Homo sapiens: one gene and its partner. The protein of the gene in region 1 binds, or shares a complex with, the protein of each later gene. Each region holds a gene or a part of one and is shown in the gene's direction. Other genes may lie near its edges.

Region 1 (3,500 bases):
TTTTCCTTGTTCTTGTAGACATGCGTCGGGATGTCCAGGAAATTTTTCGCATGACCCCCCACGAGAAGCAGGTCATGATGTTCAGTGCTACCTTGAGCAAAGAGATCCGTCCAGTCTGCCGCAAGTTCATGCAAGATGTAAATACCCTTCTACCTTCTCTCCCTCCACTCCCCGCCCGCTGCCTCCTCCCCTTCCTCGCCCTCTTCCTCAGACTCCCTTGTCATTCAAGTGCCAAGAAGGCGGCTTGTGCCCAACTGGGAGTAATGACTCCTTGAAGAGACATACAGAAGCAGAGACAGCTAGTGTTAGGGCCTGCGCGGGTGCCAGGGAAACTCCGGAAGACTTGGTCGGGTTAATGTGAGAGCGGGTAGTGTTCGACTTTTTCATAAATCACAACATTTTTGAACCTCTTCTCCCTTTGGGGGAGGGCAGGATTTTTCTGCCCTACCACCCACCCATCCATCGTCTCTTACATGCACCCTACAGCCACGCACCCTCAAGGTGGCATCGAGCGTACAGCTGGAGCCTTCTGCTCACCAAAACTCCTACTTCCCGGTGGCAGGAGAGCAAGAGAGGGACAGACAGATGGCAGGGCATGTCCAAAAGAAGAGCATCAGCACAAATGAATCCTCCCCTTCCCCACCTCCAGGGGTGGGGGCCTTTGGCACCTCAATCCCCGATACCCTACTCCTTCCCACCCACATCTCCTTGCACCCATCTGGAACCTCGGTTGATGTGAGCCGGCAACAGAGAAGCACCGTGGCGCGGCGAGGGAATGCAGACGGCACCCAGCGGTGGATGGCGGCAGCGGAGGCCGCGGGGAAACCTGACCAGGAAGCTGAGGACCAAACCAGCCTCTTTTTCCGTTCCCGGTTTTTTTCCTGAACCCAACGCGTGCCGTGCCCCGTTTCCCCCAATATGTGTTGGGGAGGGGTGTCCTGAATGGGGTGGTAGATTTTTTTTCTTAAAAAAATTTTTTTGTTTTTTTTAATACTCAGAGGAGAGGGACATAGGAAAGGTAAAGTGGATGTAATCGGGTGGTTGTTAGGGTTTGGGGCTAGGTGGGGCCAATTGCATAAGCAGTGGAGTGTGTTCTTCCCCTCCCTGCAGTGTTCCTTCCCGTGGGATGATCACTCTTTAGCTGTATTTGGGGCTAGAATGAGATTTGAAGGAGGCCATGGAACTTCTCTTTAGAAAGCCTGCCTTGGCTGGGCCTGGTGGCTCACCTCTAATCCCAGCACTTTGGGAGGCCAAGGTGGGAGGATTGCTTGAGCCCAGGAATTTGAGACTAGCTGGGGCAGTGTAGTGAGACTTTGTCTCTACCAGAAAAACCGGGCGTGGTGGCGCATGCCTGTAGTCCCAGCTACTTGGGAAGCTGAGGCAGGAGGGTTTGCTTGAGCCCGGGACGTGGAGGTGGCAGTAAGCTGTAATTGTGCCACTGTACTCCAGCCTGGGTGATAGAGAGAGACCCTGTATCAAAACAAAACAAAAAACAAAACCTGCCTTCTGGGATTGGGCTTCTGGTTTTTTTCCCATGACACACGCATCCTTTCCTATTTTGTCCTCTGGGTCTTCATATTAACTATCTTCCCCCAGGATAGTATAAAAAGTGTTAGGAAAGTTGGGCTTTGGAGTTGTGGTAATTTCTGTCTTTGTTACTTTCCTCCCCTTCAGGGGGTTTTTTAATTTTAAAGATGAATGCAGTGAGGTATAATGGTGTGTGCCTGTAGTCCCAGCTATTCAGGAGACTGAAGCAGGAGGATCACTTGAGCCCAGGAATTTGAGGCTATAGTGTGCTATGATTGTGCCAGTGAATAGCCACTGCACTCCAGCCTGGGCAACATGGTGAGATCCTGTCCCTTAAAAGTGTATCTGCTGCTCTGAATTTGGTATTTTAACACCACTTACTGATACCTTTCCTGTAAACCTGTAGATGGTTTAATTCTTAGTCAAGAGACCAGTCTCATCTAAAACTATCCTGTTGTGGTCTGACGGCAAGTAACTCATCTTGAGTAATTTTTGTTTCTCCTTAAGTGGCATTTTGACTGTCCATTGCAGCATTCTGATCTTAAAAGACATCCACTTTGCTAATGCACACGAGATTCTCTTAGTTGAAGTAGGAGAATCAAATGGAGCAGTTGTCCTCCCCCCACCCCATGTTCTTAGAAGCACCTCTGATGGAGTTATTCTGACCTTGAGTCACTGCCTCCCATCATTTCCCAGATGTTTGGTCCTTGCTCTCCCTTTGAGAATCATCTCCCATTTTCTTTCCTCTCCCACCTCTATTTGAGGTAATGGCATCTGTGCCATTGGGTGGTTTCACTGCTCCTTGACTTCATTTGCAGTTTCTTTCCCATGATAGTTTTTAGTTGGGCAGTCTTAAAACTCATCTGATAGGAAGGAAATTAGATGTAATGTGAGAGAGACCACAGTAAAATGTGGGTATTTTTGGGAGTGGGGTGGGGTTTTCAATCTTCTCTTTCCTCCCCATCCCCCCATGGGGTGTATTGGAGATCAACTTCCTCCACCCCCCCAGGTTTAACCCCCCCACTCTGCCCTCCTCCCGTTCCCCACCCCCTTCCTCCCCCCCAGCCAATGGAGATCTTCGTGGATGATGAGACGAAGTTGACGCTGCATGGGTTGCAGCAGTACTACGTGAAACTGAAGGACAACGAGAAGAACCGGAAGCTCTTTGACCTTCTGGATGTCCTTGAGTTCAACCAGGTCAGTTAGACGTCCAGTAGGGGGATGAGCATTGGAGCACTCCAGCTGTAGCAGAAACCTGGATATTAAGTACACTTTTATTGAGGAAATCACATGTGTGATGTGGGAGAGAATAATGAGGGTATAAATATCTTAGGGGCTGAGCATGAGTAAGGTGGGAGCTGCTTTTCTATTCTATGGCTGGCACGGGTATGTCCTCAATAACCTCAAGGAAAATAAACTTCAAAAATTAAGATCCTTGGCCAGGCACGGTGGCTTATGTGTGTAATCCCAGCACTTGGGGAGGCTGAGGGAGGTGGATCACTTGAGTCCAGGAGTTTGAGACCAGTCGGGGCAACATGGCGAAACTTCATCACTACCAAAGAAGAAAAAAATTAGCCAGGTGTGGTGGTGTATGCCTGTAGTCCCAGATACTCTGGTGGCTGAGGTGAGAGGATAGCTTGAGCCCAGGAAATTGAGGCTGCAGTGAACTATGATTGCACTACTGTGCTCCAGCTTGGGCAACAGAGTGAGATCTTGTCTCCAAAAGTCCTTGAAGGATTTTAGGAAGTTGTTAAAAGTCTTGAAACGATGTTTGGGGGCATGTTAGGGTTCTTGAATGTTTAATTCCTCTAATAACTGCTTATTCAAGAGAAGCATTTCTGACTGGGTGCAGGGCAGTGGCTCATGCCCATAATCCCAGTACTTTGGGAGGCTGAGGCAGGAGCATTGCTTGAGCCCAGGACTTCAAGACCAGCCTGGGTAACATAGGGAGACGCCCGTCTCTACAAATAGTA
Region 2 (4,104 bases), on another chromosome or scaffold:
GAGGGAAGCTTTTCAATCTATTCCCTTTTATACATTTTACATTTGTTACCAAGTGCACGTGTTGCCTTTTAAAAATTGGGTTTTTAAACACATTTACCACTACTACTCACCACCAAAACCTTCCCCCCTCAGCTCTTCTCCAGGGCCTTGACTGGCGCTGGCAGCTCACCACCCCTTTTTTCTCCAGCAAGAAGCCACTGGTTTAAGGGAGATATGAGAGGTGGGGTGGATACGCAGGTGGACATTTACTTTTCACTCTATATCTTTTATTTTTATATTTACAATCATGTGCATGTAATACTGTTACAGGAAAAGGGTCCCAATCCAGACCCCAGGAGTGGGTTCTTGGATCTCACTCAGGAAAGAATTCAGGGCAAGTCCGCAGTGCAAAGTGAAAGCAAGTTTATTAAGAAAGTAAAGGGAATAAAAGAATGGCCACTCCATAGACAGAGCAGCCCCGAGGGCCGCTGGTTGCGCATTTTTATGGTTTTTCCTGATGATATGCTAAACAAGTGGTGGATTATTCATGCCTCCCTTTTTTAGACCGTATAGGGTAACTTCCTGACATTGCCATGGCATTTACAAACTGTCCTGGCACTGGTGGGAGTGTAGAGGTGAGGATGACCAGAGGTCACTCTCATCGCCATTTTGGTTTTGGTGGGTTTTGGCCGGTTCCTTTACTGCAACCTGTTTTATCATCAAGGTCTTTATGACCTGTATTTTGTGCTGACCTCCTATTTCATCCTGTGATTAGAATGCCTTAACAGTCTGGGAATGCAGCCCAGTAGGTTTAAGCCTCATTTTACCCAGTTCCTATTTAAGATAGAGTTGCTCTGGTTCACACGCCTCTGCCATTACCTTTTAAAAACAAAAAATCCATTTTTATTTAAAAAAAAAAAACAAAACCTCCAGACCCCTTCTTAACACCTCTTCCCTCACTCCACACCCGCTAGCCCTTTTCATGGGACAAGCTCACCAGCTGGTCCTTCTCCAGCAAAAAGACCAGAGCTTTCTGCTCTTAAGGGAGGGGACTAGGGATTACGGAACAACCCCAGAAGAAAGGTGATGAGTTAACTGTTTAGAAGGTTAGTGTTGGTTCTTTTATTCGATTAAACAGGAATACACATATATCTACCAAAGAATAGGTAAGGGAGAAATAAGAACACTAAAAAAACTCGGAATCGTTAAGTGTGAAGCATATTTGGAGTTAAAAGAACCAAATATTACTAAGTAAGCAGACGCGGGCACGCGCTGCATACCGGGATTTGTAGTCCCTTCCGGGGCGGGGTACAGCGCGCCTGCGCAGAGGGGCCGTCGCTCTTCCGGGCGCATGCGTGCGGCAGCGGCGCCAGGACTGACTGCGCCGTGGAGGCTGCTGCAGTGTTGTGAGTTGGAAGCTGGGGAGCTCGGCATGGCGGTCCCCGCTGCAGCCATGGGGCCCTCGGCGTTGGGCCAGAGCGGCCCCGGCTCGATGGCCCCGTGGTGCTCAGTGAGCAGCGGCCCGTCGCGCTACGTGCTTGGGATGCAGGAGCTGTTCCGGGGCCACAGCAAGACGCGCGAGTTCCTGGCGCACAGCGCCAAGGTGCACTCGGTGGCCTGGAGTTGCGACGGGCGTCGCCTAGCCTCGGGGTCCTTCGACAAGACGGCCAGCGTCTTCTTGCTGGAGAAGGACCGGTTGGTGAGCTGCCGGGGCTCGGCTCAGGCTAGGGAGAGGGGCCGTGGTGAAGTGAGGTGCGGTAGTGGGAGAGCGAATGGGGGCGAACGGAGCCGCGGGGGTGAAAGGAGAGTGGGTTTGAGGGAAGGGGAAAGGGGGAGTGTGGAGATGAGGAGGGAGTAGGGAGAAGGTGGAGTGTGGGGGTGACGGGGTCGTGAGGGGTGAGGAGAGGAAGACTGGGGGCGTGTGAAGAGTGTGGAAGTAAGGAGGTTGGCGATGGCGGGTGAAGGTGAGGAGAGGGTGGATGGGACAGGGCTGCGATGGGAGCCTTACTGGTTTGGAGTCGAATCCTGTGCTGATAAGAAGTGGCTAGGGGCTGTGGTGGTGGTGGTGGTGGTGGTGGTGGTACGTTGGTGGTGGTACGTTGGTGGTACGTTGGTGGTAGAGTAAGGGTGGAAAACCAGGAAGGAGGAGAAGGCCAGGGAGGGCACAAAAGTAAGGGCATAGGTGTGGAAGCTGAGAAAAACAGTTCAGAAGGCCTGCGGAGAAGAGAAGGGAGAAAGGGCTTGGAGGAACTGGATTCTGAATTACCCAGATCTTTACTGGTCCCAGCATACTTTGGTTTGAATAAGCTTATAAAGTTACATGCGGAGGCAGTTACATCTATGTGAAGTCACATCTGGATTCTGTTCTTTCAGGTCAAAGAAAACAATTATCGGGGACATGGGGATAGTGTGGACCAGCTTTGTTGGCATCCAAGTAATCCTGACCTATTTGTTACGGCGTCCGGAGATAAAACCATTCGCATCTGGGATGTGAGGACTACAAAATGCATTGCCACTGTGAACACTAAAGGTGACTATTCAGAGAGAGGGCAATAGGAAGATAAGCTGTTTGGATTCATTCAACAACCATTTTCCGAATATCTTTTCTGTGCTTGGCACTCAGCTGTGTATGAGACATCCTGAGCTGAATAAGAGTTTCCAGCTCCAAGGACCTCCCCTGCGGGGAGAAGACATATATATACAAATAACATAGCAAGATATGGTTCATTTTATAATGGAGAGGTCTGCAAGGTGGATACCCAGAATAGAAATGAAAACAAAAGTCTGCCTAGGGGAGCCAGGGAAGGCCTCACCAAATTTGAGCAAACTTTTAGGGTAGCCATAGGAGTTGAGTGGTCAGGGTGCTGTGGGTGGGGAATGGGACATTTCCAGGAGGGAACGGCATGTGCAAAGGCATGGAGAATTTGGAAAATTCTGATGAGTTAGAATGGTTGAAACTTGGATGGTCTTGGTGATCTGGGAGAAAGTTGTGCAGTACATTTATAGGCTCTGTTGTAAGTATTGAGGCCGATATTGTATGGGACTCTGAGTTTTCATTGATCGTAAGATGTTCCATTAGGAAAGAAAGTTGGTAAATAACTGTGATACACCCAAAATTTTGAAATGCTTTCTGATACATTTTAAGATACAGTGTAGATACTAAAATGTGAGAAAATATGCGTTTTAGAATGGAAAAAGTTGGTGAGATTTTTAATTGATGTGTTCAGTGTGGGCCACTGGACTTTGTTGACAAGACTTATCTCTGGAGGCGGAATGGTGTGGTTTTTCCCCAAGTATACAGCTGCTGATCCATGAGTGATTCAGGTGATGCGTGGGTGAACATTAAAAACCAGTTTTGCAAATATCTTAATGTCTACTAGAAGAACTAGCACATAGAATTTATTATTCAGTTGAAGCTAAATTTATTTTATTTTTATTTATTTTATTTTATTTTTATTTTTGAGACAGGGTCTTGCCCTGTTACCCAGGATGGAGTACAGTGGCACAATATTGGCTCCCTGCAGCCTCCACCTGGGCTCAAGCCATCCTCTCACCTCAACCTCCTGAGTAGCTGGGACTACAGGCACATGCCACCATGCCTGGCTAATTTTTTGTAGAGACGGGTTTTGCCATATTGCCCAGGCTGATCTTGAACTCCTGGACTCAAGTGATCTGCCTACCTTGGCCTCCCAAAGTGCTGGAATTACAGGCTTGAGCCTCCACAGCTGGCTGCTAAATTTATTTAAGTAAACTTTTTTGAATCAATTTTAAGAAAAATCTTGAATAAAGAAAAGTATAGTGTTTAATGGATAGGACAAAAATTGTGATGTTGGCATGCGAATGGCTGGAGTTGAGAAATGCTGGTGTAAGAGAAAAGGGGGCTTTGGGGTCAAATCTGGGTTTAAAATCTTGGCTTGGCCGGGCACGGTGGCTCACGCCTGTAATCCCAGCACTTTGGGAGGCCGAGGCGGGCGGATCACGAGGTCAGGAGATCGAGACCATCCTGGCTAACACGGTGAAACCCCGTCTCTACTAAAAATACAAAAAAATTAGCCTGGTGTGGTGGCAGGCGCCTGTAGTCCCAGCTACTCGGGAGGCTGAGGCGAGAGAATGGCGTGAACCCAG

Evidence for each region.
Region 2: DDX39B (region 1) and THOC3 share a complex: the UniProt entries of both Homo sapiens proteins name them as parts of the transcription/export (TREX) complex.

The regions. Positions count from the first base shown.
Region 1 is NC_000006.12:31,532,004-31,535,503, reverse strand, and holds part of DDX39B (spliceosome RNA helicase DDX39B), read left to right. Parts: intron 1-18; coding exon 19-137; intron 138-2,592; coding exon 2,593-2,724; intron 2,725-3,500. UniProt on the Homo sapiens protein: Involved in nuclear export of spliced and unspliced mRNA. Component of the TREX complex which is thought to couple mRNA transcription, processing and nuclear export, and specifically associates with spliced mRNA and not with unspliced pre-mRNA.
Region 2 is NC_000005.10:175,965,516-175,969,619, reverse strand, and holds the start of THOC3 (THO complex subunit 3), read left to right. Parts: upstream 1-1,304; 5' UTR 1,305-1,411; coding exon 1,412-1,678; intron 1,679-2,352; coding exon 2,353-2,509; intron 2,510-4,104. UniProt on the Homo sapiens protein: Component of the THO subcomplex of the TREX complex which is thought to couple mRNA transcription, processing and nuclear export, and which specifically associates with spliced mRNA and not with unspliced pre-mRNA.